Regions from separate parts of the Homo sapiens genome. Here region 2 is linked to region 1. The links come from fine-mapping of genetic effects on gene expression. A gene starts in region 1. The other region holds a variant in brackets. All regions are shown on one strand. Distances are between the middles of the regions.

Region 1 (5,392 bases):
CACAAAAAGGGACAGAAATCAAATCAGTGATTGCCAGGACCTAGGGGTGGGGTGAGGGATTGACTGCAAAGAGGCATTTAGGAAATTTGGGGAATAATAGAAATGTTTGTATCTTGATTGTAGTTGAAGATACATAGCATCTGCATTTGTCAAAACTCGTCAAACTCTACAGTTTAAAAGAGTAAATGTTGTGTATGTAAATTTTACCTCAACAAACCTGACTTGAAAAAAACAGCAGGAAATATTAGACAACAATGTGAATAACAGTGGCATTTGCAGTCATGTTGGTCTTTACAAAGGACCCAATTTGTGTTTCTCGGAGCACAGTTTTGAGGTTAAATGATGTACTGGGTCCCTTTTATCTCCCCTCTTTCAATCTCTTTTCCAGTTTGGTTTCAGCAAAGGGAAACACCACAGGAGACTGAAGAAAAGAAGTAGAGTGAAATCTGGTGCTTATTTCATAGGTTCCATGCCCTCTGGTTTGCTCTTGACTTGCCATGTCCTTTTGTGAAATGTCACACTTCTGCCAGACAACTTTCTCTACTCAGGATCCCTTTGTCTCTGCGTCCCTGTAACTATCCTTGACTCTTCAGGACTAGGGTTTACTATACCACATGATCCCTTCTGGTTCTTCTACACGATGTTCACATCTCATTCTCTTCAAATTACTCAATTTGAATGTGCCATCTCTTTTCTGCCAGATTCTGACAGATACAGATAATAAGGTTCAACCCTTTGTCTTGTCACTTCTAAGCTAAGAAGATTTGGGCCACCCATTTTACAGATTTGAGCTTTAGTTTTCTATTCATTATATTTGAAAAAGTATACTTCCTTGGCAAGGTTGTTATGGGAATTAAATCATGACACGCTAGCTGAAAAAGTTTTCATTAATATTTTCTCCCTTTCTCATCTTAGACTCTCCCCATCCAACACTGAATATTTATTCTCTTTATCTTTTTATTTCTTTGCATGTTCCCATTTTTCCTCTCTCTTTTGAAGGTAATGGAATTTTTCTATCATGTGTAAATGCATAAGTAAATCATATAGAGGTGTATAATATACAGAAGGCTGTAAAAATGGCTTAAATGTACCATGGATGTTCCTGGAATAAACTGTTGCTATTTCAACTGCTGCAGAACAGTTAAGTCAAACTTTTGAATTAGGTCAACAAAATCCACAAATAGGGAGGAATCTTTGGACTGTCTAAGCAGGGACAGATCTGGAATAAATCAGCCACAGATATCACTTGTCGGCATGCTAAGAGCGGCATTTCAAATAAGGGTAGAAGGTATGCCAATAATATTGGCTTCTGGTAGCATTATGATGCATCCATTAATTCTATATTGAGAGTTTTCCATCATGTGGATTCAAGCTAACATAATTGTTTTATGGCAGTAATGTCTAAACAAGGGTCCACAATTAGGCTGTATTTTTATCTTGATTTGTGAACTGTCTCTGCCAACTACTCAAATTTCAAGCTTGTTGAGACATATGTTATCCCTGGAAACCCATCATAAAAATGAAGCATTTTACTGTCCCACTAATTCTGTGTGCTCTGGTCAGTTTCCCCATCTAGATCCAAATTAACCATGTAATTGTCCTTATACTAGTGACTAGTATTTTAAATGGCCTTTTTAGGGAAACCAAAAAGAATAAATTTATTGCTTTTTGTGCAAAAATATAATCTGGTTTGGATTCTCTTTTCTAGCTTTTAAAGCAGTGAGATAGAATGCAGTCGTGGGAAAAGAACTGGATATGGAATTAGGAAGATCTGCATTTGAAATCCAGCTCTGCGACTACTTCTTACGTGTGTGATCTCATAAAGTCACTTAATTTATCTGAGCCTTGGCCTCTTTACCTGTCAGATGGGGACCCTCTGGTGAATCAAATGAGCCATTAACGATCTAATAACATAACATGTTACCTTTATAACTTAATAATTCATTTAAAAAATAATTTGTGTATGTAAGGATGCAAATATAATTAGTAGGAGATAAGAATGAAAGAAAACCTTCAGCCAAAGGCAGAAATATTTTGGTTAAAAAGAAATCAAAGTACTGAAGAACAAGAGCAAGACAAAAATGATTACAACGTCTTCATTTATAGCTCACATGTCACAGCTCAGTATTTATAGGTTTGTTAGTGACAGCCTTCCCAGTATAGCAATGTTAATTACGAAGTAGCTGTCATTGTGTTTCACTGACACAGCACTGTGCACCTGACGGAGGCTGAAAGTACTCATTATTTCCATAGCTGATCATTTAAAGGTCCAAAAATTACACCAATAAATCCGTTTGTGTCTGATTACAATCTCTCTATATCGTACATTGAAATTCCCTGGTGACTTTTTAACAAATCTTAGTGCATTTTATTTCCCAAATATGATTTGTAATAATCAGAGCTTGACTAAAACCTCAGGAAGAGGTGATGGGTGTGAAGCTGAACACAATACTAAATCTATATTCAAATTTTCCAGAGCCTATACTTCCATCGTTATTTAAATGCCATGATCAAAGCAATAGATAGACTAAATATGGAGGGAAAGGAGGGAGGGAGAAACTGAAGAAGGAAGGGAGAGGGAGGGAGAGAAAGAGATCGAAGAGAGGCTTGGGAAAATGTTCAGTGGAAAATCTGTAGAAATGATGTAAGAGAAAGCAAAGGCAGGGATTGGAGTAAGGGGTGTATAACTGAGACTATAAAAACTCAGAGAGAAAACTCACCACCAGGGCTGAGTTTTGGAGAAACTGCAGAGACAGTACTCTAAAGTTAGAATCTCCTGATCTTTCACGAGGTAAGTTATATGTAAAAATTGATAAAGATTTAATGCTTCTTTTAACTATTATTTTTACTTTCACAGACTCTTTAAATGTTTTGATTATATCTTGATTTTGTTAAAATTAGAGTGGTAATATTTCCCTCTCTAAAATGAGTAGAAAATCAAAGATATTTTTGTAATGCAAACTTAAGGTAGAACTAATTGCTTATTCAGATATTTCATATTTATAAGATTGCTTTTCTCTTCCATTTCAAAACAAACAGAAAGTGAATGCAAAATAATAATTCTATACATATATATGTTATTAGCGTTATTTTGCTTTCCTCAAAATTGTGTAATATTAGAAAAATGTTTAATATAAAAGAGTGGTCTAAACAACCTAGGTAAAAAAGAAAGGTTTTTTCCTCATTATTTCTATCAAAACTGGAGCTTAAGAAACATCCCTAAACTAATGAAATTCTATCTCTTATGTTCTTAAAACCTAATGCATCTTCTGTTTTTCTCCTTATATGTCAAATATGCAAATATGATATTAATAACATAGTTGGAGTAGACTTAGAGTATGCCTGTTCTTCAGTATTTGTAGTGCTCTTGCTATTCAATGATTGAATTGAGAGTTAATCTGAAACATACATTTGAGCTCTGTTGGAGAAGAAATTTAAAATTTTATTTCAGGTTTAGTGTGCACTCAGTGAATTCAGTTCTAACAATTCAAATGTTGTTTCTTTGAATAACAGACTCTATAGGTTTAGGAATGTGATTATTATTTGTTTATGAGTTTTCCTTCTAAAAATTTAACATTTTTGAGAATGAATTATGGTAATTTTAATGCCTATATAAGTTATAGAATTGATAGTGTTATACCAAAAACACCAGGGACATTCTGTGTTTTCTCTTACTTTGGTACTACTCTTCAGCACGCTTACAGAACTTTTCTAAGGAGCACTTTCTGTAGATAACAGTTCAGGTCTCCTTCATGTCAGTGAATTTTACTATGGCTTCATTCAAAAATTATTCAGAGTGTTTAAGGTTGACATTTGCTTTCTCCCCCTTATTTCTCAGGATTTTTAACTGATTCTTATATACTGAATAATGAGCAGTAGAGAAGCAGATATCTTCAGTTGACTGGGCACGGGAACCTCAGGGCTATAATTTTAACTTCTTTTACAAATACTCTCAATGATTTGAACATTTGATTAATAAAATTAGATTAATTGAACTTGTCTCAAAAATAAAGAACTCGAAGTAAGAAATCCTAATATATCATTCTAGCTCTGCTATAATCCACCTATACAACTGCAGGCAAGCCTTAAGCACGAATTAAGGCTTGATAATATTGTATTTTGTCCTTGTGAAAAGGACAAAAAAAAATAGAAGTGCTAGGGATACTGAGTATAAAAATATTTGAGGAAGCCCCCATGTCAGTCAATTTTCCCTATATTAGAGAATAAAACCTCAGTATCACAGAAGTTTAGGACTAATCTTTAGAGCTAATTTAACTGCTTTGCCAATATTTCATTTACTATGACTGTTACCTACCAGACAACTTTTGCTTAGATTCAATAGTTCAGTCAGAGAAATACAAGCTTTGGAGGCAGAAAACTAGACTTCTAATTCTAGTTCTGACTTCGACAGCTTTATGGACAAACCATTCAGCTTCCCTGAAGCTTTATTCTCCTCCCCTCAGGAGCTTGTGGGGATACAACAAGTAAGCTACAACAAGGTGCTAACTCTGGGTATCTCTCTTAAATGAACCAACTCTCCAAATGGCTTAAGATCTCTCAGATTAAAGGCTTCATTTTTTATTTATTTATTTATTTTTTTTAGCTAGCTCTTTCTCTTCTTTCTTCAGATAAGTGTCACGGTACATCCCTGGAGCAGTGATGCCTTCTTCCTTATTGCCACTCCATCAGCTCAGACCTTAATACAAACCATCTCCTCCCTCCAGTAACAATGCCTCTGCCACCACCTTCTGCTCTCTCTTCCTCTTCAACAATTTCTATATTATTATCTTCTTTCCCCTCCTTTGAGCAGGTTCATTCTCTCTGAGCCTCACTTTCTCCATCTATTAATTGTGGATATTAAATTTGACAATTTTTAATGATTGCTTCCTCTGTTTCTAAAATTCTATATTCCCAGGGTACCTAAGGCTATAAATATGTGAAAATTCCACTTTTAAAATATTATATAAAATGGTATTAAAAGTTCACTTTAGGTGGCACAATTAGAGCTAGAAGAATAATGATGCCTTCAGTACAGCTGAGCTTTCTTTTGTTTCTTTCCCAGGATTACATTTTTTATAGTTGGAAGCAATTTTTATAGAAATATTATGACTCAAAATAATGATAATGCACCAAATGTTAGAGTGATTTCTATTTATAACTCTCTAGAGTGAAATTTTCTTCCCCCATTCAATATTATTTTTCTTACTATATTTTCTATCACTCTGCCTTAATTCTAGATTTTGAGGAATAATTTTGTTCGTTAAAATGAAGGATAAAAATATTTTTTCATAAAAATTAAAAAGTAGTAAAAACATTTTGAAAAGTTGCCATATTTCAAAGGCAATATCAGGATAATGATAACTGTTATTTATTGAGTAACTAATTTATGCCT
Region 2 (5,392 bases), 230 kb before region 1:
TAGGGCAGTGTGGAAGGGAAATGTGGGGTCAGAGCCCCCATACAGTGTTCCTACTTGGGCACCACCTAGTGGAGCTGTGAGAAGAGGGCCACCATCCTTCAGACCCCAGAATGGTAGATCCACTGACAACTTGCACCATGCACCCGTAAAAGCAGCAGACACCTAATGCCGGCCCATGAAAGAAGGCTGTCAGGAGGGAGGCTGTACCCTGCAAAGCCACAGGGGTGGAGCTGCCCAAGACCATGGGAACCCATCTCTTCAATCAACATGACCTGGATATGAGACAGGAAGTCAAGGGAGATCATTTTGGAGCTTTAATATTTAACTGCCCCACTGGATTTCAGACTTGCATGGGGCCTCTAGCCCCTTGTTTTGGCCAATGTCTCCCATTTGGAATGGGTGTATTTACCCAATCCCTGGACCCGCATTGTATCTAGGAAATAACTAACTTGCTTTTGATTTTACAGGCTTATAGGCAGAAGGGACTTGCCTTGTCTCAAATAAGACTTTGGACTGTGGATTTCTGAGATAATGCTGAAATGAGTTGAGACTTTGGGGAACTGTTAGGAGAGCATGATTCGTTTTGAAATGTGAGGACATGAGATTTTGGGGGAGACAGGGGTGGAAATTATATGGTTTGGCTGTGTCTCTACCCAAATCTCATCTTGTATTGTAACTCCCACAATTCTCACATGATGTGAGAGGAAGCTGGTGGGACGTAATTGAATCATGGGGGCGAGTTTTTCCCATGTTGTTCTCATGATAGTGAATAAGTATCATGAGATCTGATGGTTTTAAAAATGGGAGTTTCCTTGCACAGAGCTCTCATCTCTTGTCTGCCACCACGTGAGACATGCCTTTCAACTTTTGTCATGATTTTGAGGCCTCCTCAGCCACGTGGAACTGAGAGGCTATTAAAACCTCTTTTTCTTCCCAGTCTCAGGTATGTCTATATCAGCAGCATGAAAACGGACTATTACACTGATCCTGTTAAGGTGGTGGCCAAAATACTGTGCTCTGCTTTCTGTGGAAGCGTGATCTCTAAGAAGACCCCAAGACCAGAAGTTGTAATTTATTTATAAGTAATTACTTGTGTGAAGTATTATGGGCTCTTTTCTAAAGAGGAACTTTGAAAAATGAATAGTAAGTACCATAAGTGTTGCTTCCTTGCTACTGCTCTCCAGAGGGTACTGCTCTCCAGAGGGTACTGCTGAGCGTGTGAAGCAGGGAAGAGCATTGTTTGGATTGCAGATGCCCTCCTGTCACTGAATGTGGTAATTTCACAATCAAGAAAAAAGACTACAGTTCTTTACTGACTTAGGCTGGCATCTCAAGAGGTAGATAGAGGTATAAGGAGTGAGAGCAATATTTAGCTGTCTTTTTTTCTTGTTTCAGAAAGCACTCTTGTATAATTGTATAAACAAACATTTTACCCAGAACGTGATACTAAAATAAGTTACATTGGAAGATATCTTTAATTTCGTTGTAAAATTGAAATTAAAATTACTTTCAGCCATTTCTGGATGGGTTGCTAAGCATCACACAAGTTCCTTACTTTTATTTATTATCACAAAGTTCTTCAGTTTTTATCTAAACTTCTCCATATAATTATCCATTGAACAAATGCAGAATTCATATTCTTTTCAAGTGCACATAAAATATTCACCAAAAAAGACCAAAAGAGAATAAATTTAAAAAAATTAAAATCACATAGGATATATTTTCTGACCAAAATGTAGTCAAAGTTAAATTAATAGGAAAAACATTTTTAAAAATTATTCTCAAACTTTAAAAATTAGAAAATAAAATATTTAGAACTGAGTGAAAATGAAAACCACCTTTGGTGTTTGATGATGGTGATGTACAGATGGGTTTTTGGTGTGGATGTCCTTTCTGTTTGTTAGTTTTCCTTCTAACAGACAGGACCCTCAGCTGCAGGTCTGTTGGAGTACCCCGCCCTGTGAGGTGTCAGTGTGCCCCTACTCGGGGGTGCCTCCCAGTTAGGCTGCTCGGGGGTCAGGGGTCAGGGGTCAGGGACCCACTTGAGGCAGTCTGCCCGTTCTCAGATCTCCAGCTGCGTGCTGGGAGAACCACTGCTCTCTTCAAAGCTGTCAGGGACATTTAAGTCTGCAGAGGTTACTGCTGTCTTTTTGTTTGTCTGTGCCCCGCCCCCAGAGGTGGAGCCTACAGAGGCAGGCAGGCCTCCTTGAGCTGTGGTGGGCTCCACCCAGTTCGAGCTTCTGGGCTGCTTTGTTTACCTAATCAAGCCCCGGCAATGGCGGGCGCCCCTCCCCCAGCCTCGCTGCCGCCTTGCAGTTTGATCTCAGACCGCTGTGCTAGCAATCAGCGAGACTCCGTGGGGTAGGACCCTCCGAGCCAGGTGCCGGATATAATCTCCTGGTGTGGGTGCGCCGTTTTTGAAGCCCGTCGGAAAAGCGCAATATTCGGGTGGGAGTGACCCGATTTTCCAGGTGCGTCTGTCACCCCTGTCTTTGACTAGGAAAGGGAACTCCCTGACCCCTTGCGCTTCCCGAGTGAGGAAATGCCTCTCCCTGCTTCGGCTCGTGCACGGTGCGCGCACCCACTGACCTGCGCCCACTGTCTGGCACTCCCCAGTGAGATGAACCCGGTACCTCAGATGGAAATGCAGAAATCACCCGCCTTCTGCGTCGCTCATGCTGGGAGCTGTAGACCGGAGCTGTTCCTATTCGGCCAAAC[G/A]TATGTTTATTGCGGCACTATTCACAATAGCAAAGACTTGGAACCAACCCAAATGTCCAACAATGATAGACTGGATTAAGAAAATGTGGCACATATACACCATGGAATACTATGCAGCCATAAAAAATGATGAGTTCATGTCCTTTGTAGGGACATGGATGAAATTGGAAATCATCATTCTCAGTAAACTATCACAAGAACAAAAAAACAAACACCGCATATTCTCACTCATAGGTGGGAACTGAACAATGAGAACACATGGACACAGGAAGGGGAACATCACACTCTGGGGACTGTTGTGGGGTGGGGGACGGGGGAGGGATAGCGTTGGGAGATATACCTAATGCTAGATGACGAGTTAGTGGGTGCAGCGCACCAGCATGGCACATGTATACATATGTAACTAACCTGCACATTGTGCACATGTACCCTAAAACTTAAAGTATAATAATAATAAATAAAAAAGAAAACCACCTAGCAGAGGAAAAATGTTAGAAAATCAATGATCTAAGCTTTCACCTTAAACAGTTAGATGAAAAGCTAATTAAATTTTGAAAAATTATTCTCAAACTTTAAAAATTAGAAAATATTTAGAACTGAGTGAAAATGAAAACCACCTAGCAGAGGAAAAATGTTAGAAAATCAATGATCTAAGCTTTCACCTTAAACAGTTAGATGAAAAGCTAATTAAAACCAAAGGTGAGGCCGGGCGCGGCGGCTCACGCCTGTAATCCCAGCACTTTGGGAGGTCGAGGTGGGCGGATCACAAGGTCAGGAGATCGAGATCATCCTGGCTAACACGGTGAAACCCTGTCTCTACTAAAAATACAAAAAATTAGCCGGGCGTGGTGGCGGGCGCCTGTAGTCCCAGCTACTCAGGAGGCTGAGGCAGGAGAATGGCATGAACCCGGGAGGTGGAGCTGGCAGTGAGCTGAGATTGCGCCACTGCACTCTAGCCTGGGCAACAGAGCGAGACTCCGTCTCAAAAAAAAAAAAAAAACCAAAGGTGAATAGAAGAAATGATAAAATAAGAGTATAAATTATTAAAATAGAATCTGAAGAAAATTTAATAAAACAAATGCTGATTTTTAAAGGTATCTACAATTGATATATTTTTAGGGAGACTGATTAAGAAAAATAGAGAAACTCAAATTACTAATATTAGGTCTGACATACCTAGTATCATAGGGATATTACTATGATTTTCAGACATTGAAAGGACAGCAAGATATTATGAACATTGTGCCAATAGATTTGACAGATTAAATGAAATGAATGAATACTTTGAAGAAACAGAAAGAATTACAAAAAACTATGCTGTCCAATATCAATTAAAGAAATTGAGGTCAAACTTGTTCTTCCTTGTTTGTGGGAGCTAAGGAAAACTGAGAAGTAGAATTGTGGTTATTAGAGGGTGGGAAGGATAGAAGGAGGGGATGATGGGAAGAGGTCAATTAACAGTTACACCTAGATGAGAGGAATAAGTTCTAGTGTTCTGTAGCACTATAGAGTGAATATGATTAACAACAATTTAGTGTATATGTGTTAAGCCATTCTCATGTTGCTATAAAGAAACACCTGATGCTGTGTCATTTATGAAGAAAAGAGATTAAATTGGCTCATGGTTCTGCAGGCTATTTAGGAAGCATGGCATTGGCATATGCTTGGCCTCTGGGGAGGCCTCAGGGAACTGTTGCTCATGGCAGAAGGCAAAGCAGGAATAGGCACATCATACGTCAAGATTGGGACCAAGAGATGTAGGGGAAGGTGCTGCACACTTTTCAAAACCAGATTTTGTGTGAACTCAGAGTGAGAGCTCACTTATCCCCAAGGGGATGATGTCAACCATTCATGAGGGATCTGCCCCTGTGATCCAAATACCTCTCAGCAGGCCCCACCTCCAATACTGGAGACCACATTTCAACATGAGATTTGGAGAGGATACATATTCAAACCATATTAATATATTTTCAAAAGCTAGAAGAGAGGATTTTGAATGCTCACAATACGAAGAAATAACAAATGTTCAAGGTGAGGGTTATGCCAATTACCCTGATTTGATTATTATACATTGTATACATGTATGGAAATATCACTCTGTATCTCATAAATAGGAATAATTTTTAAGTTTTAACTTAAAAAGGGGAGAAAAGATATTGTACTCATAATAAAAATACATTCAGGGCCCAAATGGCATCATTGATGAATCCTATTGACCTGCCAAGGTAGAAATGAGTGTCCTTTCAGAAAATAGAGAAGGAGTGGAAACCTCTCATCATTTTATCATCTCTTGCTATCAAAACAAGACAAAGATATCAATATAAAAGAAAACTACAAACTAATATTCCAAAGGAAATAAATAGGATAAGTGAGATTATCTACAAAAATGCAAGAGTTAACATTAAAGAAATAAATTAATGTAATTGAACATATTGATGGATTAAAGGGAAAAAACATAGTATTATCTCAGTATATGCAACTATTATCTCACATATTTCTAGTAGGAATGTAAAATTAACCACTTCGGAAAACAGTTTAGCAATTACTTTATAAAGTTAGAAATACATCTACATAGGACTCAGTGGTTACATTCCTAGATTTTTACCCAAGAAAAATGAAAATATATGTCTCCTCAAAGACTGATACACACATGTGCATAGCAGCTTGATTCATA

What was found. PIP is the estimated chance that this variant, and not a neighbour inherited with it, causes the effect.
Region 2: its variant is the best candidate, but not a certain one, in a credible set for the expression of OSTN in sun-exposed skin (GTEx, PIP 0.89).

What each region holds. Positions count from the first base shown.
Region 1 is chr3:191,196,517-191,201,908 of GRCh38, forward strand. It overlaps OSTN (osteocrin), which reads left to right and starts at 2,725. Exons shown (of 5, transcript NM_198184.2): 1 at 2,725-2,791.
Region 2 is chr3:190,962,814-190,968,205 of GRCh38, forward strand. No RefSeq gene overlaps it. Among named protein-coding and RNA genes, the nearest start is that of SNAR-I, 88 kb to the left of the region's middle. The variant G/A (reference allele first, on the strand shown) is at 2,719.